7 linked regions of the Homo sapiens genome follow. The protein of the gene in region 6 interacts with the protein of the main gene of each other region in a biochemical or structural test. Each region holds a gene or a part of one and is shown on either strand. Other genes may lie near its edges.

What was found.
Region 1: the proteins of CRB2 (region 6) and GRIP2 interact in a test that uses a peptide from one of them, tested with the Homo sapiens proteins (one large-scale study listed by IntAct).
Region 2: the proteins of CRB2 (region 6) and PTPN3 interact in a test that uses a peptide from one of them, tested with the Homo sapiens proteins (one large-scale study listed by IntAct).
Region 3: the proteins of CRB2 (region 6) and LIMK2 interact in a test that uses a peptide from one of them, tested with the Homo sapiens proteins (one large-scale study listed by IntAct).
Region 4: the proteins of CRB2 (region 6) and MAST2 interact in a test that uses a peptide from one of them, tested with the Homo sapiens proteins (one large-scale study listed by IntAct).
Region 5: the proteins of CRB2 (region 6) and RADIL interact in a test that uses a peptide from one of them, tested with the Homo sapiens proteins (one large-scale study listed by IntAct).
Region 7: the proteins of CRB2 (region 6) and TJP3 interact in a test that uses a peptide from one of them, tested with the Homo sapiens proteins (one large-scale study listed by IntAct).

What each region holds. Positions count from the first base shown.
Region 1 is NC_000003.12:14,491,975-14,495,342, reverse strand, and holds part of GRIP2 (glutamate receptor-interacting protein 2), read left to right. Parts: intron 1-353; coding exon 354-500; intron 501-1,516; coding exon 1,517-1,678; 3' UTR 1,679-3,368.
Region 2 is NC_000009.12:109,488,308-109,491,807, reverse strand, and holds part of PTPN3 (tyrosine-protein phosphatase non-receptor type 3), read left to right. Parts: intron 1-3,500.
Region 3 is NC_000022.11:31,271,298-31,274,797, forward strand, and holds part of LIMK2 (LIM domain kinase 2), read left to right. Parts: intron 1-1,232; coding exon 1,233-1,407; intron 1,408-2,154; coding exon 2,155-2,210; intron 2,211-3,500. UniProt on the Homo sapiens protein: Serine/threonine-protein kinase that plays an essential role in the regulation of actin filament dynamics. Acts downstream of several Rho family GTPase signal transduction pathways.
Region 4 is NC_000001.11:45,802,431-45,806,411, forward strand, and holds the start of MAST2 (microtubule-associated serine/threonine-protein kinase 2), read left to right. Parts: upstream 1-1,181; 5' UTR 1,182-1,465; coding exon 1,466-1,642; intron 1,643-3,981. UniProt on the Homo sapiens protein: Appears to link the dystrophin/utrophin network with microtubule filaments via the syntrophins. Phosphorylation of DMD or UTRN may modulate their affinities for associated proteins. Functions in a multi-protein complex in spermatid maturation.
Region 5 is NC_000007.14:4,831,717-4,835,216, forward strand, and holds part of RADIL (ras-associating and dilute domain-containing protein), read right to left. Parts: coding exon 2,891-3,500; intron 463-2,890; coding exon 425-462; intron 1-424. UniProt on the Homo sapiens protein: Downstream effector of Rap required for cell adhesion and migration of neural crest precursors during development.
Region 6 is NC_000009.12:123,354,772-123,358,996, reverse strand, and holds the start of CRB2 (protein crumbs homolog 2 precursor), read right to left. Parts: upstream 2,801-4,225; 5' UTR 2,737-2,800; coding exon 2,643-2,736; intron 1-2,642. UniProt on the Homo sapiens protein: Apical polarity protein that plays a central role during the epithelial-to-mesenchymal transition (EMT) at gastrulation, when newly specified mesodermal cells move inside the embryo.
Region 7 is NC_000019.10:3,746,384-3,748,848, forward strand, and holds part of TJP3 (tight junction protein ZO-3), read left to right. Parts: intron 1-101; coding exon 102-312; intron 313-392; coding exon 393-493; intron 494-1,410; coding exon 1,411-1,698; intron 1,699-2,465. UniProt on the Homo sapiens protein: TJP1, TJP2, and TJP3 are closely related scaffolding proteins that link tight junction (TJ) transmembrane proteins such as claudins, junctional adhesion molecules, and occludin to the actin cytoskeleton.

The sequences.
Region 1 (3,368 bases), on a different chromosome or scaffold from region 6:
CTGAGCAGCTCTTTGGTAAATGGGAATGAGTGACGGTCAGGGGAGGTAACAGTGCCCTGGCCAGGCCTCCTCCCTGATAGAGCCAGAGGACAGAGAAAGGGCTGAAAGGAAGTCACTCCTAAGGGCTCCGTCGTACTTGAGTGTTGTGGCCTGGAGCATCTGCTGAGGGAGGTTGGCAGGGAGCGGGGTGGCGGGGGTGGCTGAAGGCCCAGGGGCAAGAGGCTGGGGTGCTGCAGCCTGGGGGGTGTGGCTGGCCAGAGGCGCTGAATGCCAGACCAAAGGACCTGGGCTACTGTGAGAGGCTGGGGGCAAAGGTCAGAGTTCCAGGAACCTCCTCCTCCTTCTGCTTCCAGGTGACCCTGCACAAGGACCCCATGCGGCATGACTTTGGTTTCAGCGTCTCAGATGGCCTCCTGGAAAAAGGTGTCTATGTCCACACTGTGCGCCCTGATGGGCCAGCCCACCGTGGAGGCCTCCAGCCCTTCGACAGGGTCCTGCAGGTAATGCTGGGGCAGGGGCTCCATAGTGGGGGTGGCATTGTTTCCTAGCCTGAGGGTGGGGAAAGAGCCTGCATCTATCGCCTGTGAAGAGGGCAGGACAATGCAAGTCTGAGTCAGGTTAGCCAAAGTTGCATTGCGGGCCCCAGCACCCTCAGCCTCAGAGGCTGAGCACACACAGACCTTTCTTCTTACACCCCATGCCCATTGTGGGCTGGTGGGGGCCTTCTTGTCCCGGGCTGATGGAGCATCCGCCCATCTTGGAATTGACCCTCTGAGACACGTGGCCTCCTCAGACTCCACAGCAGAGGAGACAGACTGGAAAGTCACACGTGGATTTTTTCCGCCTTCACCCAGAAGCAACACTCATCACCTTGCTTCACAGCCGATGGACCAAACCCCTCATGTGACCTTCCTAACTAACTGTGAGGGAGCCTGGGAAGCGTGGGACATCGTGTACTGGGCACTCCGTGCCGCCCCTTCTCATGCCCTGGCTATTTTTGCTCCCTCAGTGTGTTTTTTGCCATATTTATATGAAATTTACTCAATTCATGTTTTCTCTAAATTGATGGCACTTTTTCAATTTACATTTGACTTTGAAAGGAAACTTTTTGTCTCCATTAGGAGTGAAAATCTTGCACCCCTTGCTTTGAAATAGAAAGTGGGTGTAAAATGCAAATAAAATAGAAAGAAGACAATGTCACATCACACAGTTCTAGGCAGGAGGCTCTCTGAGTGTGTGGTCTGCTCTTTCATGTGAGAAAGGGAGAAAAGCAAGAGTTAGAGGGGTATGAAAGGTATACCTGCCCCTTCCTAGAACTTTCTCTTTGATGAAACCTAACAGAAGGACTGAGAGAGAGTTAGAGGAAGAATGTTCCTCTGTGTGTGGTGCTGGTGATGTCAGGGCTTGCGTCAAGGCTGGGGCAGGACCCATCTTTAGGACATCACATGCCTCTTGCTCCCTTCAGCGCAGCAGGGCTGACATCTCGGTTCTGTTCCCTTGCTTGTGCCCCATGCAGGTCAACCACGTCCGTACACGGGACTTCGACTGCTGCCTGGCGGTGCCACTCCTGGCCGAGGCGGGTGATGTCTTGGAGCTGATCATCAGCCGCAAGCCGCACACGGCACACAGCAGCCGGGCCCCCCGATCGCCAGGCCCCAGCAGTCCCCGGATGCTCTGAAGTCAGCATGTGGGCCGAACTCCTAAGGGGCCACCCAGGCAGATCCTGGCTCCCAGACACGTAGCTGGGCTGGAGAAGCGGCCACCCACTCATTCATCTGTTGGTCTGGCAGACTCTGAGCCTGGGATGATGCTTGGTCTCTGTTCCCCAGGTCTGTGGTGACTGGGGTGCCAGGCAGGGAGGTCCTGCCCTAGTTGGAGTGACAGCTGGGGTCTCTCGCCAAGTTGGGTCTCCAAGATGCCCAGAGGAGCCTCCCTTAAGAAGGGTTGGCACAGGCTGCTCAGCCGAGAGGAGAGAGGCCTGGGGGCTGTCCCAGGTCTCTGTGGGGCCTCCTTGGAGAGGTCGAAGATGTAGGGAGCACTTCCTCCCAGCAAAGCCATGGAGCTGGAATGAGCTGCAAGGAGGAGTGAGTTCTCGGTCACAGGAGGTGAGCAGGCAGGAGCTGGATACCCCAGCGCAGTCATGCATTGGGGTATGAGGCATTCCCATGATGCGTGCACACGCGCTTGGGGGTTGGCTTCCTGATGGGGAGCCACTTCATCTAGAGACTCGGCCACCAGGAAGGATGCTGCTTCGGATGGGAGCCCAGCTCCTTCGCTTCTCCAGAATAGGGGTTTGGGGCTTGCTAGTCCTGAGATTCTGAGATTCCCAGAATCTGGTCCCCACTTATGAGACTCTTAAGTTGGGGCGTCTGGGATCCCAGGAAGTGCTGGCCCTTTGATTCTGAAAGTGGGTGATTCTTTGATTTCAGCATCTCAGTCTGAAGCTTCTGGGACTTGAGACTGTGGTTCTGGGCCCATTGGGCAGGCTCTATGGGCCTTGGGCTCTCAGCCCTCCTGCTTCTTCTGTAGGCCGTGTGGCCACTGACCCATCTGCACGTCCGCTCAGCCCAAGCCCCTCCATGTGGGAGGGGTCATTTTGGGGCAAAAGACCCTGGAGCTTCCATTCACCTGCCATCCAGTGAAAATTGAAAAGCGATGGACGCAGGACCTGTGAGGCGGTAGCGCTCCTCTTTACAGCCAGATCAGTGGAGGAAGAGGAGAAAGAGGGAGGGAGATGGGAGAGAAATGGGCCAGAGAAAAAGATGGGACACTCTTGCCCAGTGGAGGGTGTCCAAAGTGCTTATTCAAAGAAGTCTATTCCCACTTGAAATCTGGAAGCACCAGCATCCCTTAAAATCATTGTCCTCAGTGTCCACAAATCAGAGACCCTCTTCATTTTGAGAAGGGTGTGGGCCTCCCCTGGTGGTCTAGTGAGTGGTGCCTGGGATGGAGTGGGCGGGCAGGTGTAGCCAGGGCTGGGGATGTGCTTTGCCTGGCCCAGTTCTCACAGGGGTCTCAGGAAAACGGGGCACCCACTCCCACCTCCATCTGTCTCCAACCTGGGGTCCCTGGAGGCCAGAAAAGTGCTCTTCCATTTGAGGGAACAGATGAGGAGTCAAGAGGTCTGTTCTTTTCACCCTGGGTCTGTTACCTGTTTGCTGTGTGACCCTGTCTGGGTTGGACCCCCAGCCCCTCTGGACGATCACGGGTGGACAGTCTGAGCAGACACAGGCCTCCTGGTCAGGGCCGGAACCATCTCTGCCGACCCACCAAGGCCCCCTTGGGGACCTGCCCACGCTGTCTCCTGGAGGCCTGCCTCCCTTACCCCTCCCCTCCACTTCGCTGGGCTCTGCCCCTTGGTGCCCTCC
Region 2 (3,500 bases), about 14 Mb from region 6:
GGACTGCAAGAGCCTGGGACCTTCTCCCCCTCCCCACTGATTACTTCATCCTGTGGGTCTCAGCTCCATGATTGCAGAGCCTTTGCTCACCTTCCTGACTTGAGTTAAATTGTTGCTATAAATGTTCATGCCACCAGATCTCTCTCCATTATAGCACTTTTCCTAGTGGCAATTTTGCAGTTAATTAATGTAATTATTTGTATTAGTACCTGTCTCCCGGCTACACTGTAAGCTGTGTGAAGGCAGGGTCTCTTTTTTAAAAAAACTTTTTCTAAGTTTTATTTTTTTTTCTTTTAATGTTTTATTTTGATACAATTCAGACCCATAGGAAGGTTGTAAGAATAAATCAAAGAAGTCCCATAAATTCTTCACCCAGATTCCCCAAACATTACCATTTTATTCTTTTTATTTTATCCCTGTGTACATATATATCTATCCTGAACCATTTGAGGATTATTTATCAATGCCTCCTTTCCCCCTACATATATTTCCTAAAAGCGATGATATTCCGTAACTACAATACAAATTTTAGAATCAATAAATTAATAGTGATACAACATTGTTTAATCTATAAACCTCAAGTTTTATATACTTTTTTTTTTTTTTTTGAGAGAGAGTGTCCCTCACTCTGCCACCCAGGCTGGAGTGCAGTGGTGTGATCTCAGTTCACTGCAACCTCCGCCTCCTGGATTCAAGCAATTATCCTGTCTCAGCCTCCCAAGTAGCTGGGATTCCAGGCGTGTGCCACCATGCCCGGCTAATGTTTGTATTTTTTGTGGTGACAGGGTTTCACCATGTTGGATGCTGGTCTCGAACTCCTGACCTCAAGTGATCTGCCTGTCTCAGCCTCCCAAAGTACTGGGATACAGGCCCGAGCCACTGCGCCCGGCCTAGATGTTAGGTTTTGCCAGTTGTCTTAGTGATGTCCTTTTTTATAGCAAAAAAAAAAAAACTCTTATAAATGGGTTGCGTACGGTTGTCATGTCTCGTTAGTTTCCTTTAAACTAAGACAGTTCCCCAATTGTTCTTGGTCCTTCAGGACCTTGACTTTTTTTGTTGTTGTTGTTCCAAGATGGAGTCTCGCTCTGTCGCCCAGGCTGGAGTGCAGTGGCTCAGTCTCAGCTCACTGCAGCATCCGACTCCTGGGTTCAAGCAATTCTCCTGCCTCAGCCTCCTGAGTAGCTGGGATTACAGGCATGTGCCACCACGCCCGGCTAATTTTTTGTATTTTTAGTAGAGACGGGATTTCTCCGTGTTGGTCAGGCTGGTCTCCAACTCCCGACCTCAGGTGATCCGCCCACCTCGGCCTCCCAAAGTGCTGGGATTACAGGCGTGAGCCACCATGCCCAGCCAGACCTTGACGTTTTTGGAAAGTACAAGCCAATTATTTTGTAGAATGCCCCTCACATTGAGTCTGTTTTAACTCACCATTTTGTCCCCAGTGCCAAGCACAGTCCCTGGACCATCAAATGCACTCAGTAAATATTTGTTGAATGAGGAGAGGGAGAGATGGAAGGAGGTGCAAGGGGAAAAGTCAGCAGGTTTTCTGCTTTCTTCCAGCCCCACGCCTTTCCCTGCTGAGTGATGTGGGGTTTTTTTTGTTTTGTTTTTGTTTTGTTTTTTTTGAGATGGAGTCTTGCTCTGTCACCCAGGCTAGAGTGCAGTGGCGCGATCTCGGCTCACTGCAACCTCTGCCTCCTGGGTTCAAGTGATTCTCCTGCCTCAACCTCCCAAGTAACTGAGATTACAGGTGTCCACGACCACGCCCAGCTAATTTTTTGTATTTTTAATAGAGATGAGGTTTTGCCATGTTGGCCAGGCTGGTCTAGAACTCCTGACCTCAAGTGATCCACCTACCTCGGCCTCCCAAAGTGCTGGGATTATAGGCATGAGCCACCCCACCCGGCCTGGATGTTGTTATTTAGTTGCAGTCATACTGTATACAGGTTTGAATCCTGCTATTTTTATAACAAAGCTTTCCCCAAAAAAGAGAGGCTTCCTGAGAAGATAGTGAGCCTGCTGTCCTTGCAGATATACAAGCAGAAGCCAGATGATGGTTTGGCAGGGATACTGGAGAGGCAAATGGAATGTTTGATGAGGGGTGAGACTCATCAGGCTGGGCGTCCCTGCTAATCATGGGTAGACTTCTCTAACTGCAGCACTGACTTCACAGGCCTAGGCCCCCAAGAACAGTGCAACTAGAATTTATCATCCCAACCAGAACAATTTGAGAATAAAAAGGGGTCCTATTAATAATTGCACATGACTGACGGGTCTAAGCCGGGACTGCCCTAGGTAAATCCGGACGTGTGGTCACGTCCGGATTTAAGAGTGACTTCGAGGTTGAGATCAGTGCAGGGTGAGCCAGCATGGAAAACCCTCTAGCACTAGGAATCTTCTACCTGGATAAAGACAAAACTAACCTCTGCATGGCCTGCAGGCCTGATGTTTGTGGCTTTGGTCCCCACACCTCTGTGGTCCCACCTCCAGTAGGATGCCACTCCCAGCTTTGTGCCTGCCACACCGGCCTTTTGTCAGCTCTCACCTCACTATGGTACCTGTCTGCCACAAGGACTGGCAGAGTCTGGAACGTCACTCACATACCCTGGCTGGATGGAGGAGCAGGGACAGAGTTTATGATAGATGGACAGGGAGATGAACAAGCCAGCTGTGCTTCCCACTGACCAATTTCTAATAGAATTTAAGAGCCAGGGTGTGTAAGCAAAGAAGGGCAGGAGGCGGGAGTCACCCTAGACCTTATCTTCTTTCCTCTAGTGCTCACACTTCCACCTCTTCTTCCTGCACCAACGCCCACATCCCTGTTCCAGCCCTAGTTCTGAGATGATGACTAAGTCACTGACCTTTGGCAAAGGCAGGGAAGCAGGTGGCATTGGGGACCCAGGCAGAAGAGGATGGGCATTGGATGGACAGTAGATGCAGACAGGGACTTGGATGCAGAGAAACCAGGCAGGAAACCAGCATCTAGGGATCCCAGTAACAAGGTCACTACAGGGCCATTTATCAGGAAGTCTAGATTTGTAATATCAAGTGACCAGACACTCGGTCAAGGGGTCAGGCTCTGGGATCCATACAGTCTGGTTCTTTAACTTATTTTCTGCCTAGAAGAAAATACAAACCTTGCCTTCCTGGATTACAAATTATTATAGGATGAAAATGTGAAGATAATGGAGCTATTTTCTGGGAAGCATCCCAGTCATGTGAACTTTAAGAACACTGTCCAGTGCAGTCGTGTTTTTATTACTCTAGGCATCAGCAGCTTTAATGGAAAAGCCAGTTAGTAAAGGAATGTTCCGGTTCCTAGAATGCAAGATACTAGTACTGCTGAATGTTGGAAAGATTTTCTGGTTAACTGTGTTATTAGATTTTACTGCTTAAAAATGTACTTTCAGCCTGGTGCGGTGGCTCATGCCTGTAATCCTAGCACTTTGGGAGGCAGAGGCGGGTGGATCACCTGAGGTCAGGAGTTCGAGACCAGACTG
Region 3 (3,500 bases), on a different chromosome or scaffold from region 6:
AGAGGTGTTGCCTAGGAGCTCCTATCTTTCCCTTCCTGCTTCTTCCAATGCCCTTCTCTGTCCTCTGGGAGCTCCGAGACACACACAGACATAATTTCACCTTCTCTCATTAGCAACCTTTGAAATAATTTGATTAGAAGGGACTTCAGAAGTTTGTTGACTATATGTAGAAAACCCTGTCATTTTACCTGCTTTTGCCCCATAGTAGTCTTGTAAAACAGTTCATTGCTGACCCCATTTTACAGTGGTGGCACCTGAAGCCTCAGCCTGAGGCCACCGAGCTAGTAAATTTACAGGGACCAGTTTGAGACCAGCATTCCTCCCACTGCCCCTCAGCTGTGGTGGTTACAATGTTGTTTGTCTTACTGACTTGCTATCTGGCTTCCTGGGTGTCTACCGGCTGGCCCTGGCTCTGCCCTCTAGACCCACACCACGCAATCTTCATTCCTTTCCCACATGACTGCCCTGTAGCTATTCAAAGAGCTTGTCTCCCCCAAGTCTCCCCATCTACTGCCTCCACCTTGCCTTTTTCTGTCTTATCCTGGTTCTAGCCACTGCCTGAAATCATTTTAGGAATAAGACAGGACAGGGAAAAACAAAAGCAACCCCCTGTCCCACCTCTGAGTTCCACTCTCCAAGTCCCTGAGCCTCACCTCCAGGGCTCCAGTGGCTCTGCCATGAACCCACTGTGGGCTGGGAGTCTGCTGTGCACAGATACCAGACCCTCAGAAACACAAATGCCAAGTGTGTCTGTTTTTTTGTTTTGTTTTGTTTTGTTTTTTAGATGGAGTCTCATTCTGTTTCCCAGGCTGGAGTGCAGTGGTGCAATCTTGGCTTACTGCAGCCTCTACCTCCCGGGTTCTAGTGATTCTTCTGCTTCAGCCTCCCAAGTAGCTAGGACTACAGGCGTGTGCCACCACGCCCAGCTAATTTTTTTTTTTTTTTTTTTGTATTTTTAGTAGAGACGGGGTTTTGCCATGTTGGCCAGGCTGGTCTTGAACTCCTGACCTCAGGTGATTCACCCGCCTTGGCCTCCCAAAGTTCTGGGATTACAGGTGGAAGCCACCGTGCCTGGCCTGAGTGTGTCTATTTGATAGAGCTTTCTGCTCTGATTCTCCCTTGCTATACACCTTTTCTCCCCTTCTCAGTGGCTTCTCTTGCCTATGCTTCCTCCCCAGGGCCAGGTTTGAGAACATCCCCATGAAGTCCTGACCTGTCTTTTATCCTACCAGGACAAGACTGTGGTGGTGGCAGACTTTGGGCTGTCACGGCTCATAGTGGAAGAGAGGAAAAGGGCCCCCATGGAGAAGGCCACCACCAAGAAACGCACCTTGCGCAAGAACGACCGCAAGAAGCGCTACACGGTGGTGGGAAACCCCTACTGGATGGCCCCTGAGATGCTGAACGGTGAGTCCTGAAGCCCTGGAGGGGACACCCGCAGAGGGAGGACAGATGCTGCCCTTGCATCAGAGCCCTGGGAATTCCAGGGGAGGCCTGTGAAGCGTAGGACCGGATACCCAGAGCTGAGGATATTTTTCCCTTGCCAGGTGGGGCCTCACGATTTAGCTCCTGAGCTCAGGGGGCTGGGAACTGATCAGTGTCCCATCATGGGGGATAAGGTGAGTTCTGACTGTGGCATTTGTGCCTCAGGGATCGCTAAGAGCTCAGGCTATTGTCCCAGCTTTAGCCTTCTCTCTCCATGGTGAGAACTGAAGTGTGGTGCCCTCTGGTGGATAATGCTCAAACCAACCAGAGATGCTGGTTGGGATTCTTGAAATCAGGGTTGTGAGGCCTCAGAAATGGTCTGAATACAATCCATTTTGGAGTCTGAGGCCCAGAGAAGTTCAGTGAATTGCCTAGGAGCATACAGCTGCCTAATGGCAGAGGCTAGATGAACCCTAGTCTGGTTCTTTTCCACTTTAACGTGCAGTTTCATCCTAGGCAGTGTTATGTTATAAGGGCTCTCCAAGGCAGTTCACCTACAGCTGAGGAAGGACTATTTTCAGGTGGTGTCTGCGCAGGACAGCCTGTGGGGTGTCCCTACAGAACCTGTTCTAGCCCTAGTTCTTAGCTGTGGCTTAGATTGACCCTAGACCCAGTGCAGAGCAGGTAAGGGATGTAAACTTAACAGTGTGCTCTCCTGTGTTCCCCAAGGAAAGAGCTATGATGAGACGGTGGATATCTTCTCCTTTGGGATCGTTCTCTGTGAGGTGAGCTCTGGCACCAAGGCCATGCCCGAGGCAGCAGGCCTAGCAGCTCTGCCTTCCCTCGGAACTGGGGCATCTCCTCCTAGGGATGACTAGCTTGACTAAAATCAACATGGGTGTAGGGTTTTATGGTTTATAACGCATCTGCACATCTTTGCCACGTTCGTGTTTCATTGGTCTTAAGAGAAGGACTGGCAGGGTTTTTTTGTTTTAGATGGAGCCTCACTTCGTTGCCCAGGCTGGAGTGCAGTGGCACAATCTGGGCTCACTGCAACCTCTGCCTTCTGGGTTCAAGTGATTCTCCTGCCTCAGCCTCCCAAGTAGCTGGGACTACCGGCACACACCACCATGCCCGGCTAATTTTTGTATTTTTAGTAGAGACAGGGTTTCACCATGTTGGCCAGGCTGGTCTTGAACTCCGGACCTCAGGTGATCCGCCTGCCTCAGCCTCTAAAAGTGCTGGAATTAATAGGCGTGAGCTACCTCGCCCGGCCAGGTTTTTTTTTTTTTTTTTTTAGTTGAGGAAACTGAGGCTTGGAAGAGGGCAGTGGCTTGCACATGGTCGATAAGGGGCAGATGAGACTCAGAATTCCAGAAGGAAGGGCAAGAGACTGTTCATGTGGCTGTCTAGCTAGCTCTTGGGCCAAATGTAGCCCTTCTCAGTTCCCTTCAAGTAGAAGTAGCCACTCTAGGAAGTGTCAGCCCTGTGCCAGGTACCACGTGGACAGAGTGAGGAATCTTGGAAAGATTCCTACCTTTAGGAGTTTAGTCAGGTGACAGCATATCTCAGCGACTCAAACACACACACATTCAAAGCCTTCTGTAATTCCTACAAAGTTGTGAGGGGTAGAGGAGAGGAGAGACAAGGGATGGTTAGGATAATGAAGGAATGTTTTGTTTTTGTTTTTGTTTTTGAGATGGAGTTTCACTCTGTCACCCAGGCTGGAGTGCAGAGGTGCAATCTTGGCTCACTGCAGCCTCCGCCTCCCAGGTTCAAGCAATCCTCCTGCCTCAGCCTCCCAAGTAGCTGGGACTACAGGTGTGCGCCACCACGCCTGGCTAATTTTTGTATTTTCAGTAGAGACAGGGTTTCGCCATATTGGCCAGGCTGGTCTCAAATGCCTGACCTCAGGTGATCCACCCGCTTCAGCCTCCCAAAGTGCTGAGATTACAGGCATGAGCTACCGTGCCTGGCCATGAAGGAAGATTTGTTTTAAAAAATTGTTTTCTTTAATATTAATTGAACACCTCTGTTCAGAGCACTGGGCTGGTGCCAGAGGGTTTCAGACATGA
Region 4 (3,981 bases), on a different chromosome or scaffold from region 6:
ATAGAGGAGCAGGCTGGTGACAGGCCGTAGAGCACATTGGTTATGTGCATCCTCCCGGCCTCCCAGAAGGAATCCATCACTTTTTCCACTTTTATAGGTGTTTCCGCACTGTCTTTCTGTCCGGATCTGGCAGACCTGGGTTTGAGTCCTGGCTCTGGACTTATAAGCTGTGTGATGTTGAGCATATTATGTAATTTGAGCCTATTTCCTCAACTGTAAAATGGAAATACAACTTACTTCTTGTTTGTGTATGTCTGAATTGAATGCACAGTGTGTGGTATGCAGTGGGCACTCCATAGTGTTGGCTATTTTTATTACTCAGAAAGGGGTCAGGGAAGAGGCCCAGGACAAATGGGTGAAGGCTTTAAGCAAGGCTTCTAGGTCAAAAGAGGAAAAACACAACATGTGGCAGACCAGCTGAAGCCAGAGGGAGGCCAGAGCTGAGCTACCACCACATGTTGCTGAGCAGATGAGTCACTGCAGGCAGCAGGTCAGGCTACCCAGGCCACAGCAGACTGGGCTGGGCTCTACACGATGACTTCATTGTATGCCTTTTTTGTCCTCTCCTCCTCCCAGAAGGAATCCATCACTTTTTCCACTTTTATAGGCGTTTCCACACTGTCTTACTGTCCGGAAAGAGCAAACACGGTGGAAAGGGACAGAAGAGCCAGAATTCCGTCTAGTTTGATCACTGATTTGCTGGGTGACCTGGTGCATTTCACTTCGCCTCAGTCTCTTTATCTGTAATATGAGAATGCGCAGATTTGCCTCCTAAGTGTGATGTGAGAATTAGGTGAGAGTTGGCAGGCACTAAATAAAAAAGCATGCATTAGCCTTCTATTCATTAGTTGTGTTATTCTGTCTCCTTCCTGCTCCCGGCCCCTCTCTCCCTAGTTCTTTGAGGACACCGATCGACTCGAACTCATTTTTGGGTCCCCAGCACTGAGCTTGGCCCAGCAGTTTCATGAATGGATGAATGAAAGATTCAATGGGAGTCCGCAGCCGCTGACGGCGCGCCGAGAGCCCCGCTCGCTTCTGGTCCTCCGACTGCGCGCCAGGGCCACGGGCGGGTCCTTTGCGACCGTTCGCTGGCGCGTGCGCGGGAGGCGGCGCGCGGCCGGAGGTGGCGGGCGGGCTCCCGGTGCGCGCGCGTGAGGGGCGGGGCCGGCCGAAGGCTGGCTGTAGGCAGGCGGCTGAGCCGGCGGCGGGTGGCCTGCCCAACGTGTGCTGGGTGGGAGAAGGCGAGGCGTCAGCGATGCTGTCTCTTCCGTGAGGAGCGCAGAGGAGGTCGCGGCGCCGGAGGCCCCAGAAGGCTCGAAGGCGCCGCGGGCTGGGGTCGGTGGCTTAGGGAGCCCGTCCGGCCATGGTGGCCGCGGGTGGTGGTTGGCGCGGCTGCGCTGCGGCCCGGGGCAGTGCGGAGCCGGGACAGTCGCGGCGCTGACGCCCGCGGGCCCCAGCTGCAGATATGAAGCGGAGCCGCTGCCGCGACCGACCGCAGCCGCCGCCGCCCGACCGCCGGGAGGATGGAGTTCAGCGGGCAGCGGAGCTGTCTCAGTCTTTGCCGCCGCGCCGGCGAGCGCCGCCCGGGAGGCAGCGGCTGGAGGAGCGGACGGGCCCCGCGGGGCCCGAGGGCAAGGAGCAGGTAGGGCGGGTTGGGATCCGGGAGGGTGAACCTGAATGGAAGCCGTGGGGGAGGGGATCTTCGGCGGGAGGACCCGGGCTGGAGCTTTGGAGGGGTGGGGTCTGAGTAGTTCGCGGGGAGGAGTGGGAGGTCTGGGGAGGCCGAGAAATGGGGAGTGGAGAAATGGAAGTGGTGGCCTGGGGTTGTATTGGAAATGGGGGTGTAGAAGAATGAAAAATTGGTGCAAGAGATAGTCAGGGGTTCTGGATGGGGCGAAAGGACGCTGGAATGTGGGCTGAGTGTGTGAGCTGCAACGAGTAGGCTTACTAAAGAGGCGTTGAGGAGTTATCCATAGGAGTAAATAGAGTAAGATGTAAGTCAATTTGATGTAGTGTTATCCTGTTTTCTAGAGGTTGTCCTTAAAATTGTAAAAACGGATGACACTCCCAAGCATTCTCTGATTTGGCCATCATTATACTTTTGTACCAGTGTGTTCACAATCATTGTTAAGGCTCTCTTTACCAACCATCTATTTCACAAGAAAGCACTTGTGAAACACCTGCATGTGAGCAGTGTTAAGCCCAATTTTGTGAACAGAATTCGTAGATATATGGTTTGCCTGCTAGTTTTCCACTGAAAACACATTACTGGGAAAACACAGCAGCATACAAATATTCATGGAGTTTCTGAATGAACAGGATATGTTTATGTAATTTATTAGTCAAGAGTAGGTGTATTTATGAGTAGGGGATAAAGGTCAGTTTTATCAGGCAGGAGAAGCTGCCACTAGTAGCGGTAATAAGTTTAGTGAAAGGAGAATAAGTAATCCTTGGTCTTGTTGGATTTACAGAAAAATGTTCTGTAGTAATGAACTCTAGTGACAGCTTTCCTTTTGTTCAGCTCTATTCGGGATCCTACTGACTTCATCCATGAATGTTTTAAGACTTCTTATAGGTCTCTTACCTCTTTTCTCTCAGATAAATTAGCATTTTCCTTAGACATTTTTTTTTTTTTTTGAGACGAAGTCTCGCTCTGTCGCCCAGGGGAGAGTGCAGTGGCATTATTTCGGCTCACTGCAACCTCCACCTCCTGGGTTCAGCGATTCTCCTGCCTCAGCCTCCCGGCTAGCTGGGATTACAGGTGCCTACCACCATGTCCAGCTAATTTTTTTGTATTTTTAGCAGAGACAGGGTTTCACCATGTTGGCCAGGCTGGTCTGGAACTCTGACCTCAGGTAATCGGGATTACAGGCATGAGCCAGTGTGCCCGGCCCTTTAGACAGTTTAAAAATTATATACCATGCTAGGTAGCCCTTGGACTTTTCCCCCCTTTTGTTCTTCCACCTCTTATTCCCCACTGAGCCCTGAGGAGACTGCACCATTGACCATCTCTGCCCCGCTTCTAGCTGCTGAGCATTGTCCTCTTGCTGCAATTTACTCCCCCATGTGCCTAATACTTATCTTTTACATTCTCTGCAGTATCATCTAGTCAAAACTTGTACAATGAACTTCAAGTCCAGGTCCTTTCCTGTCTCAGTTTACCTGTCCAGTTGACCTTACTGCGTATTTCATGGTAGAGTTCAAGATTACTTGATTTTTCCCTCCTCTTTATTTTATGATTTTTGTGTTTTCTCATCCTTAGCTTCAGTCTCAGAGAAAAGTACTCATCCTCCTCTCCGAGGCTAATTTCTCTACTTATGTCCTTGATTTCATCCTCTTTTGTTTGCCTTAGACCCTTGTTACTCTCTTTGTTTTATATCACAAATAAAAACAAAACAACATAATTTCCCTGAATTGTGTAACCTACCCAAACTACTTTGTTATCTCTTCTTTGCTTCCCCAACAACCTTCTTGAAAAATGAGTTTGTATTCAGTGTCTTAGCTTCCTCACCTTGTATACATTTCTAATATGGTTTGGCTTCTTCACTTATGCTTTCCCAAAACTGATGTCTTTAAGGTCACCGAAAGCTTTTTTTGTGTGGGATTACTTTTTTATTGAGGTTTGACAAATCAAAGGTTCATTCAGTCCATGAAATATTACAGAATGAGTACCTGTATGATCACAACTCACATCAGGATGGAGAACATTCCCAGTACCCTAGAATGCTCCCTGTGCTTTCTCCTAGCACTACTCTTTTACAGATGTAACCTCCCTCACCACCTCTGTCACTATAGATTTGTTTTGAACTAATACTTCATATAAATGGAATCATAGTGTGTACTGTTTTGTGACCAGATTCTTTCATTCGGATCATGTCTTGAGACTCATCCATGTTGTTGCTTGTAGAAACAGTTCTTTTTCATTGCTGTGTAATTTTCCATTGTATGAATGTATTGTGATGGTTACTAAAACTTATTTTT
Region 5 (3,500 bases), on a different chromosome or scaffold from region 6:
TAAAAGTACAAAAAAAAAAAAATTAGCCAGGCATGGTGGTGCACACCTGCAGTCCCAGCTACTCGGGAAGCTGAGGCAAGAGAATCCCTTGAACCTGGGAGGTGTAGGTTGCTGTGAGCAGAGATTGCACCACTGCACTCCAGCCTGGCGATAGAGCAAACAAAACAAAACAAAACAAAAACAAACAAAAAAAGAAGACCTCACCCATCCAGTCTTAAGGGTGCCCTGAAGCAATTTCCCAAAACTCAGAGCTTCCCAGGGTGATGACTAAAGAAGCAAAAAAGGCCGCTGCTTGGATGGAAGGACAAAGCCCAGAGCTGACCCCAAGGCGTGGGGAGACCCCTCGGGACTTGGCTCCCCCGGGAAGTGTGAGCCCCCAGGACCTGCTGCCCAGAGGCGGGCACAATAACCGGGTCATACTCACAGTTGCGCCTGCTTCTCTGCTAGTTCTTTGGTTTTCTCCTACAATTACAAAGCGGGAGAAAAAGCAAGTGAGCAAAACAGGCTAACACAGGGACGCGTTCAAATACACGATACCATCGACAGGAAAACAAGCCATGCTGCCCCAGGCATCCTGTGTGACGCTGACTATTTATTCAAGCTGTGCTGGAAAGGACATTTTCCATGTGACTTCAACATCTTCCCATTCCATTACCGACTATGACCTACAAGTTTGCTACAATAGAGTATCTCACAACTCTCTAGCTTACATAACAACCGGCTATTTAAAAAATAGTAGAGGCTGGGCAAGGTGGCTCACACCTGGAATCCCAGCACTTTGGGAGGCTGAGGCAGGCAGATCACTTAAGGTCAGGAATTCGAGACCAGCCTGGACAACATGGTGAAACCCCATCTCTACTAAAAATACAAAAATTAGCCGGGTGTGGTGGCGCATGCCTATAATCCCAGCTATTTGGGAGGCTGAGGCAGGAGAATCCCTTGAACCTGGGAGGCAGAGGTTGCAGTGAGACGAGATCACGCCACCGCACTACAGCCTGGGTGACAGAGCGAGACTCCGTCTCAGCAAAAAAAAAAAAAAAAAAAAAAGAATTATTCTTGCCTTAGTAGTAAGTTATTATCCGGCTGAATGTAACCGTGATGGCTGAGTGCGCGTAGACTAAGCGTGTATATTTGGTAAGGAATGAGGACGGGGCAGCGGCGACACAGTTGCACATTCTCAGGAAACAAACGCGCAAATGATATTCGCATGGGATCTGGACAGCACCCAGCGGAGGCTTCGGATTCCCACAGTGGGTGCAGGGGGAAGAGGTGGACTCAGGCTCGGTCTCATGTCTATCAGCTCAATCTCTGGACCAGGCAATTCACCTCTGGGAGCCTCTGTTTCAGAGCCTGTAGCATAGGGGCAGGGTGAGCCCTGGTGTGCTGCAGGGAGTGGGCCAGCCACACAGCGAGCCCCAGGTGGCTGGGACACAGGCTGGGACCCGGGTCCCTCAGCAAGTGACTTACGGCCCCCTGGCTTCAGTTTCCCTGGCTGTGACATGGGGTGTGGCATCTACATCGTCAGGGTGGTTGTGATAAAGAAATTAAACAGCGTTTGGTTTGCAAGTAAGTGCCTGGCGCAGAGGAGACTCGGGAAATGACAATGATCGTGCGAAAACCCATGACTTCTGGCCAGCAGGTAACTCTCGGTCACAGTGGCCACGATGTGGACACACACTACAGGGACATCACCTGGCCCTGTGTCCATGACTGCACGGAGGGGACACGGGCACGCTGCAGTGGCACTCCCATCAAATCCCAAGCCGGGAACCCGAGGGGAAGAGGCACGGACACCCAGATTACAACACCCACGGTGCACAGAGACGGCTCCCACTGACATCTGGACAGGGAAGCCTGAGCTGGCTTTTACTTTTTAAAAGTCTCAGACATTTAAAATGTGGATTTCGATATGAGAAAGTGATAAGGTTTCTACACAGTCAAGTGGTTCCCCCTTCCCCTGTCTGCCGGGGATAAGCGGGGCCCAGACTAGCGAGGATCTGAGGGTCTCTGAACGAACTTGAACAACTACGAGTTGTCCTTCGGGTCCCTGGGAGCCAAGTCACTGTGGGGTGGGGCCCAGCGGGGGGCCATGACTGTGTGATGCCTGTTCCAGCACTCATGGGCCCAGGGCGGTCCTGCTCACTGGCGGCCACACTGGATTCCTGGGGACATTGGCAATGCCTGCAGCCATGGGTGTATTGCGTGTGTGTGTGTGGCGGGGCGGCAGAGGGTGACCGGCATCTAGGGGTGGAGGCCGGGGATGCTGCTGAATCCTCTGCAATGCACAGGCCAGCCTCACAGCAAGGAGCTCTCCTGCCACAGTGTCCACAGGGCCGGGGATGAGAGAGGCTGGCCTGGAGGAAAGTTCGTCAACGCACAAAAGGTGACGGGCCCTGCACCTCCAAACTCGGATCAGGGATGGCTCCAGCGGGTATGTGCTCAACCGGCCCCTGGCAGCAAGCACAGGGCGCCGGCACACACAGGGGCTTCTGGGGCTCTTGGGCAGGGGCCTGTGAGAGCTATCAATGTCACCTCGGCCTCGTGGTGCCCAGGCTCAGGGGCAGCTCACTCCTGGCACGTGACAGTGCTGGGCCCAGCTGGACCCCAGGGAGGGTACAAGCCCAGAGCTCAGGAGGTGACCTAGGACCCCACGCAAACCCCACCCTCAGGGGCAAAGGGCTGCAGCTGACACCTTGGGTTCTGGGGCTGCTTCTGGTGGCCTGTGGGGCTGGGGGGCAGCGACAGGCAGGGAAAGGCCGCCCTGCGCTCAGCAGCACAGCACCGTGGGGGTCAGATAGAGGCGCTCCCGCCTCCCAGCCGGGGCCAGCTCCGGGCCCCCTCTTCCCCCAGACCGGCACAGGACCCAGACCGCCCACCCCAGCACACTGACCCAGACAGTCTCGCGGATCAGCCTGGCTATCTTGAGCAGGAGCTGCCCGAATGTGCCCGGCTGGAAGTGGGTGGCCGAGTGCTGGATGCAGAGGCACAGGAGGAAGGCGGGGGTCAGCTTGTGGTCGTCGCCCCCCGGCTCGATCAACGTCATGATCCTCTGCAGCAGCGTGTCCTCCAGGTGGGGCTCAAACTCCAGGAGCAGCTGCTGGCGCCGGGGCAGGGCGGCCTGAGTAGGGGAGGCGGCTCCCCGGGCCCCGAGCGCGGCCCCGCACAGCCGGCAGCTCTGCGGCACAGCCCGGAGGCGCGCCAAGGCCCGGGCGGGCAGGGGCTGGGCCTGCGCGGGGTCCTTGAATAGCAGCAGGTAGTAGAGCCCCAGGGAGAGCAGGTCCCCGTGGTGCAGCACCACGGTCCTGTGCCCCACCTCGGAGAAGTTGACGGAGATGTGCGCCCCGGGGATGGGCTCCAGGACCAGCCTCCCCGCGGCCTGGCCGCTGTCCGGGAGCGGTTGCCGGCGGATGGTGCAGTGTAGAGGCAGGATGTCGGGGGCTGAGAGGCTGATGCTGGGCTTGCTGGAGGGGGTCCGCTGGCCCACCGTGTGCCGGTCCCGG
Region 6 (4,225 bases):
AGGGGGAGACAGAGCAGGTGGGGTTCCCCACCTGCCACCCAAACAGGCCACTTTTAACAATTTTACTATTAACTATTCATGGGCTTCCATCTAAAATTTCCCTTGAAATTGGGGGTTCCATGCCAAAACCTGGGGTGGGGAACCGCTCACTGCATTCTCTTCCAATCCTTATACCAGCGCTCGGAGTAAGCCAGTCTGTCCTCGTTTTGTAGAGACAGAGAAGAGACGTGACTTTGCCTAGGCAAGTAGCACAGTGTACTGTGAAATCCCAGCACTGGCTCTGGGGCTTCCTGGCTCTGGGACTGGCCATCTCTGGGCCTCGTTTACCTCCTCTGTAAACTAGGGGTATCAGAGCTGACTTCATAGGCTGTTGGGAGAATTAAATTAGACCTCGTTAATAATAGCACAGTGCCTGCCATGGAGTGGCTGATCTTACTCATTAACAATTCTTTACTTGAGGCAGACACCCACTGTCCAAAGGATCCTGACATTGGGTTGAATGTGTGTGGCTTTCTGCTCCATCTCTGCTTCTGTCCTGCAGGCCCCCACCCCCTTCTGGCTGGAGGAGGGGCCGGACTTGGGGCCTGGACTCACTGCCCCTTTGTCTGCTGGGCTCCCTGGGTGTTTGGGGAAGGGAGGGTGGATATGAGAGCCCAACGTGCCCCATTGTACTCCAAGATGCTTGGTCCTCTCCATGGCAACCAGCCGGGCCTTTGTGGCAAATTGGGCCCAGGATGGAGAGGCCCAGCTCAGGGCCTGGCAGGGGTGGGGAGAAAAGCCAGGGGCCCATGGCCTCCAGAAGCCCCCATCCCCTCCAGGATGGAAATTGGTTTTCAAGTGACAAAATCCCCAATCCCTCCCCTCCCGGCAGGCAGTCTAGGGTACCAGCATGCAGAAATGGTCATGCCTGCAGTGTACCCCACCAACTTTTAGGGATCCCCAGGGATGGCGCTCCCAGCACAGAAATGGCAGAGGAAAGGCTGCCCCTGGGCAACCCAGCAGGCCTGATGGGTTGAGTGTACACACCAGTGTCCAGACCCCCCACAGCCTCCATCCACTCTGTGCCTCCAGGTCCCCTGTGAGTGCACACTGAGTGTGAATGCACACATGTCCACATGTGCGTGTTGGGGTGTGCACATTGGTGTGCAGGCACATGCCATGTGTGTAGGTAGGTGCATGTGCTGGTAGATCCACATGTGTCTGTAGCACCTGTCCCTGTGGTGCTGTGTGCCCTTGGGCATGCCACACAGGTGTGCGGAGTGTGGGTGTGTGAGCATCACAGGGCAGGGGACAGAGCACCGATCCACAGACCGGGATCTCACGTGCTTTGTATGCAGAGAACAGAGAGGAGCAGCCACCCCGCCCCCCGCCACCATGCCCCACCCCTCTATGGAGCCCAAGTCGCCTGCCAGCAGAGCCCAGCTCATAAGTCCCCGTCCCTCTCTGAGCCTTGGTTTCCTTCACTGCAAAATGGGGTCCTCATCCTCCCTAGGGCCCCATAGAGAGGATAGGAAATGAAAGCTTTGTGAGTGCGGGAAACATGAGGGTCCCCAGGTGGGACTGGGAGACACTTGGCCCCCACACCCTACAGCCTGTGGAGCTCTGGGGCAGGGAGGGCTCCCCCAGCCTCAGGAGAGCCCAGGCCCTCCTTGGCTCCCTCCCCAGCCTGTGGTGGTGGGGGCAGGGGACTTCCCAGGCCCGGCCCCTGTAACTATAGTAACTAACACCAAGCGTTCCCTTGGACCCCCCAGGAGGAATTCCAGGCTCCGAGAGCTTGGACAAAAGCAAAAAGGGCTTGGCAAATGTGGTCTGGCTTCAGGGAGCCCTTTCAGATTGGCCTTGGAATGCTGGGGAGGGGGCAGCAGGGGACACACACATGTTCCCAAATCCCCAGCCACCCCACAGGGACCCAGAGCATCCCCAGCAGCCCTCAGCACAGGCAGGGCTACCGCACAAATGGAGGGGTGCGGGCAGGCACCCAGCTCCCTGAGTCTCCCTCACGCTTCTCCACTCAGTCCCGAGTTGGGGTCGGCTGTGCACATCCCACACCCCTCATGTTGAGAGCAAAGACCTAGTTCAACCCTGGACAACCTACACCCCACAGCGTGTGCTAGGACACAGCTCACCACACCCAACTCCTCGGACACAACTCACGGCTCACCCCAGACAGCTCATCCACCTCCCAACTCTAACACACCCACAACCTGTGCCCCACAACCCAGCATGCGACACAGAACAAGCTCTGGGGTGAGGCTTATGCCACCTGCAACTCCCCAAACTCAGCCCCTAGAAACCCAGAAGTCCCCCAGCCCTTTACAGGATGCAACACAGCACCTCCCAAAACACGCACCCCATCCCTCACCCGCATCAGCTCCCCCAAATCATGCCCAGCCCCCGATCCCCCAACCCCGAAACTTACAACCCCCCTCAACATGAAACAGCCCCGAGCCTCAGAACACACTCACCTCCGTGGAGCCCCACAGAGTCTGGGGGCCACAGCCGCGCACTCCTGTGCACCCCACAGCTCAGGCCTGCACCCACGCGGACCAGCCCACCCACCACCCCAGCAGCCAAGGCTTGGGGTATCTGTCTTGGGGGACAGACCCTCTCCCAGGCCCCTCCAGACATGGGCCCCAACTCACCAGCCAGGAGGGAAAGGGCAGGGGCCCAGAGCAGCAGTAGCAGGACAGAGGCCAGGGCCTGGGGGTCCGGGGTCCCAGGCCTGGCCAGCGCCATGGCAGCCCGCTCTGCGCTCTGCTCGGCTGCTGTGAGAACGGGAGGGCGGCCTGGCTGGCTCCGCACCCCCCTCGTCCCTCCAACCAGCACTAATGCTGTGGACAGAGGCCCAGCCCCTCCCTCCCCTCCCCGCCACCGCCTCCTCCTCCCACCCAGGCCTCCTGGGCTGCTCCACCTCGTGGACGTCCCTAGACATCAGCCCCAAGTCCTCAAGCCCCCTAGCCTGTGGGGCTGACCTGGTCTTGGCACCCACTGGTTTCTCCCTCCTGACCCTCTGCCCCACTCTCCTCCCACCTCTCAGGTCAGCCTCCTTGGAGAAATTTCTGTCCTTGGAGAGGGGGCTGTTCAGGACTCTCGTCTCACCAGGTGATGCCAGCTACTCCCAAGTCCTTAGTTATCCCCTCTCCTGGATCCCCCTCCCCACCTCTCCAGCCCGGGCCTCTCTCCCAAGCCCAGGCCTTCGAGTCCAGTCGCCTCCCAGACCCTGTCTCTGCTGGGAAGCTGCAGCCCCTCCCACCCAGCTCGTCCCCCCACCTGCTGCTCCCCAGTGCTCCCATCGGAGCCAAGGCACCTCCCATCGGGCAGCCCAACGCCCCCTCCCCACTCCCCCCTCCCCACACTCGGTCAGCCCCTAGCTCCTGGCCATGCCACCTTCTCAGTGTCTCCTGCTGTCCCCACCCCGTCCCACCCGACCACACACAGCTCCTCCCACCATCGGCCTCAGGATCAGCTCCCTGCAGGGCACCTCACCCCTGCACCACGGTGGTCCCTGCCTCCCTTTACCCTCTCCACCCTTCACCAGCCAAACTGAACCTTTCCCAGCTTTCTTCCACTTGACCTTGATCTCTGGCTCTGCTGTTTGCAACTCCAGCGACCTCACTGCAATCCAAAGCAGCCCATTCTACTGAAAGGCAGCTCTAACCAAGCAAGCATTGCTCTCCCCTGCCAGGAAGTCCTTCTTGTTGTCTAACCTTATAGTCTCCTGCTGCACTCGATGTTTGCTTGCTCTCCAGCTGGCCTCTTGTTGGGGTGGACAGGAGGAGCTCTTCAGGGGGACCTGGTTCAGGAAGCCAGGTCATCTCAGAGACACTACAACATAGAACAACATTCCTTTCTTCTACCACCCTCAGCCCCAGTGGGGAGAGAATCCTCTTGCTGAAGGGACTTTCCTGAAATGAGCCACCGGCCCCTGCCAATACATGCCTGTTTGTCCCTATTCAGTAACCGTGGATACAGCCCACGCAGGCCCTGGGCTCTGGGATGTGTCCCTGACACGGGAGGACACAGCCTGGAAAGACAGCAGGAGCCATTGAGGGAGGTCCAGATGAGCTAGAGGGATGGGCAAGGGTCCCCTGCAGTGCAGGGGAGGGAGCAGTGGGCACCACACAGGCCCTGGCCGACCCTCTAGCCCGGGGCAAGTGCCACAGCCCTGGGTCCCCAGGGACCAAAGGAGGGAACCCAAAAAGGCCTGGGTAGACTCCTTATCCAC
Region 7 (2,465 bases), on a different chromosome or scaffold from region 6:
TGGGGTCCACTCTGACCTCAGACTCTTCATCTTTCTATCTTTCTCTCTCTGTTTACCCTGCTGCAATCCCCCTCACCCCAACGTCCGCCGGCCTGGCCCAGGACAAGCATGCGCTCCTGGATGTGACCCCCTCCGCCATCGAGCGCCTCAACTATGTGCAGTACTACCCCATTGTGGTCTTCTTCATCCCCGAGAGCCGGCCGGCCCTCAAGGCACTGCGCCAGTGGCTGGCGCCTGCCTCCCGCCGCAGCACCCGTCGCCTCTACGCACAAGCCCAGAAGCTGCGAAAACACAGCAGCCACCTCTTCACAGGTTGGGGGGTGGGTGTCCCAGGGTAGGCGGGTGGGCCCCAGCCTGAGTCTCCTGCACACACTGACGTCCCCTCCCTGCAGCCACCATCCCTCTGAATGGCACGAGTGACACCTGGTACCAGGAGCTCAAGGCCATCATTCGAGAGCAGCAGACGCGGCCCATCTGGACGGCGGAAGATCAGGTACTGCCGCGGTGTGGGTGGGTCGGGCAGGGAGGCCCCACAGACGCTGTGCAGGCCCAGCTGGGGTTTGGGGCCTCTGTCGGGAGTTAGGGCTTGGTCAGGGATCAGGACTGTGGCCAGAGTCAAGATGGGACCTGAGACAAGGGTGTTGGACTGGAACTTGGGTGAGATGAGATTGGAGGAGCTGTTTTTTGTTGTTTGATTTGAGATGGAGTCTCATGTCACCCAGGCTGGAGTACAGTGGTGTGATCTCAGCTTGCTGCAACCTCCGCCTCCCGGGTTCAAGTGATTCTCCTGCCTCAGCCTCCCGAGTAGCTGGGACTACAGGCGAGCGCTACCAGGCCCAGCTAATTTTTGTATTTTTAGCAGAGACGAGGTTTCACCATGTTGGCCAGGCTGGGCTCAAACTCCTGACCTCAGGCGATCCACCTGCCTCAGCTTCCCAAAGTGCTGGGATTACAGGCCTGAGCCACCGCGCCCAGCCTGGAGGAGCTGTTTTGAGAATGGAGTCAGTGGGGCACGGGAGCTCACGCCCATGGTCCCAGCTACTCAGGAGGCTGAGGCAGGAGAATCACTTGAACCCGGGAGGCAGAGGTTGCAGTGAGCAGAGATTGCGCCACAGCACTCCAGCCTGGCAACAGAGACTCCTTCTCATAAAAAAGAGAGAGAGAATGGAGTCTTCTCTTGGGGCTGGAGTCAAGGTTTGGGGCTCAGCTTGGATTTGGGGGCTGAGCCTCTCAGGTGAAGGGTCAATGGATACAACCCATCCTGGAGTCAACAGAGAAGCCTCCACTGAGGCTCCAGGCTCCAGGCTCCTCGCCTTGATTTGGGACCAGAGTTTGAAGGTGGGGGGATGTCGTGGGTGGCAGCTGGGGTCCTGGCCAGGGCCAGCCGCAGCATCCACACCCACCCCACAGCTGGATGGCTCCTTGGAGGACAACCTAGACCTCCCTCACCACGGCCTGGCCGACAGCTCCGCTGACCTCAGCTGCGACAGCCGCGTTAACAGCGACTACGAGACGGACGGCGAGGGCGGCGCGTACACGGATGGCGAGGGCTACACAGACGGCGAGGGGGGGCCCTACACGGATGTGGATGATGAGCCCCCGGCTCCAGCCCTGGCCCGGTCCTCGGAGCCCGTGCAGGCAGATGAGTCCCAGAGCCCGAGGGATCGTGGGAGAATCTCGGCTCATCAGGGGGCCCAGGTGCGTCGGACATGGGGGGCAGGCCTGGGAAGGGTCTCCGGAGGGGATGCCAGCACAGAGCAGACACACACTGGGAGCCTGTTTTCTACCAGGACGTCAACAAACACGGCTTCCCTGGTCAGACTGGTTTCTGGGACTCAGACCTGGGGTAGCTGAGACCCACGTGGCACTGAGTAACTTGCAGCATTTTTTTTTTTTTTTTTTTTTTGAGACGCAGTCTTGCTCTGTCGCCTAGGCTGGAGTGCAATGGCGCAATCTTGGCTCACTGCAACCTCCACCTCCCAGGTTCAAGCGATTCTCCTGCCTCAGCCTCCTGAGTAGTTGGGATTACAGGCACCTGCCACCATGCCCGGCTAATTTTTGTATTTTTAGTAGAGACGGGGTTTCACCATTGGTCAGGCTGGTCTTGAACTCCTGACCTTGTAATCCACCCGCCTTGGCCTCCCAAAGTGCTGGGATTACAGGCATGAGCCACTGCACCCAGGCTTTTTTTTTTTTTTTTTTGAGATGGAGTTTCGCTTTTGTTGCCCAGGCTGGAGTGCGATGGCGTGATCTCGGCTCACCACAACCTCCGCCTCCCAGGTTCAAACGATTCTCCTGTCTCAGCCTCCTGAGTAGCTAGGATTACAGGCGTGCACCACCATGCCTGGCTGATTTTGTATTTTTAGTACAGACAGGGTTTCTCCATGTTGGTCAGGCTGGTCTGGAACTCCAGCCTCGGCCTCCCAAAGTGCTGGGATTACAGGTGTGAGCCACTGCACCCGGCC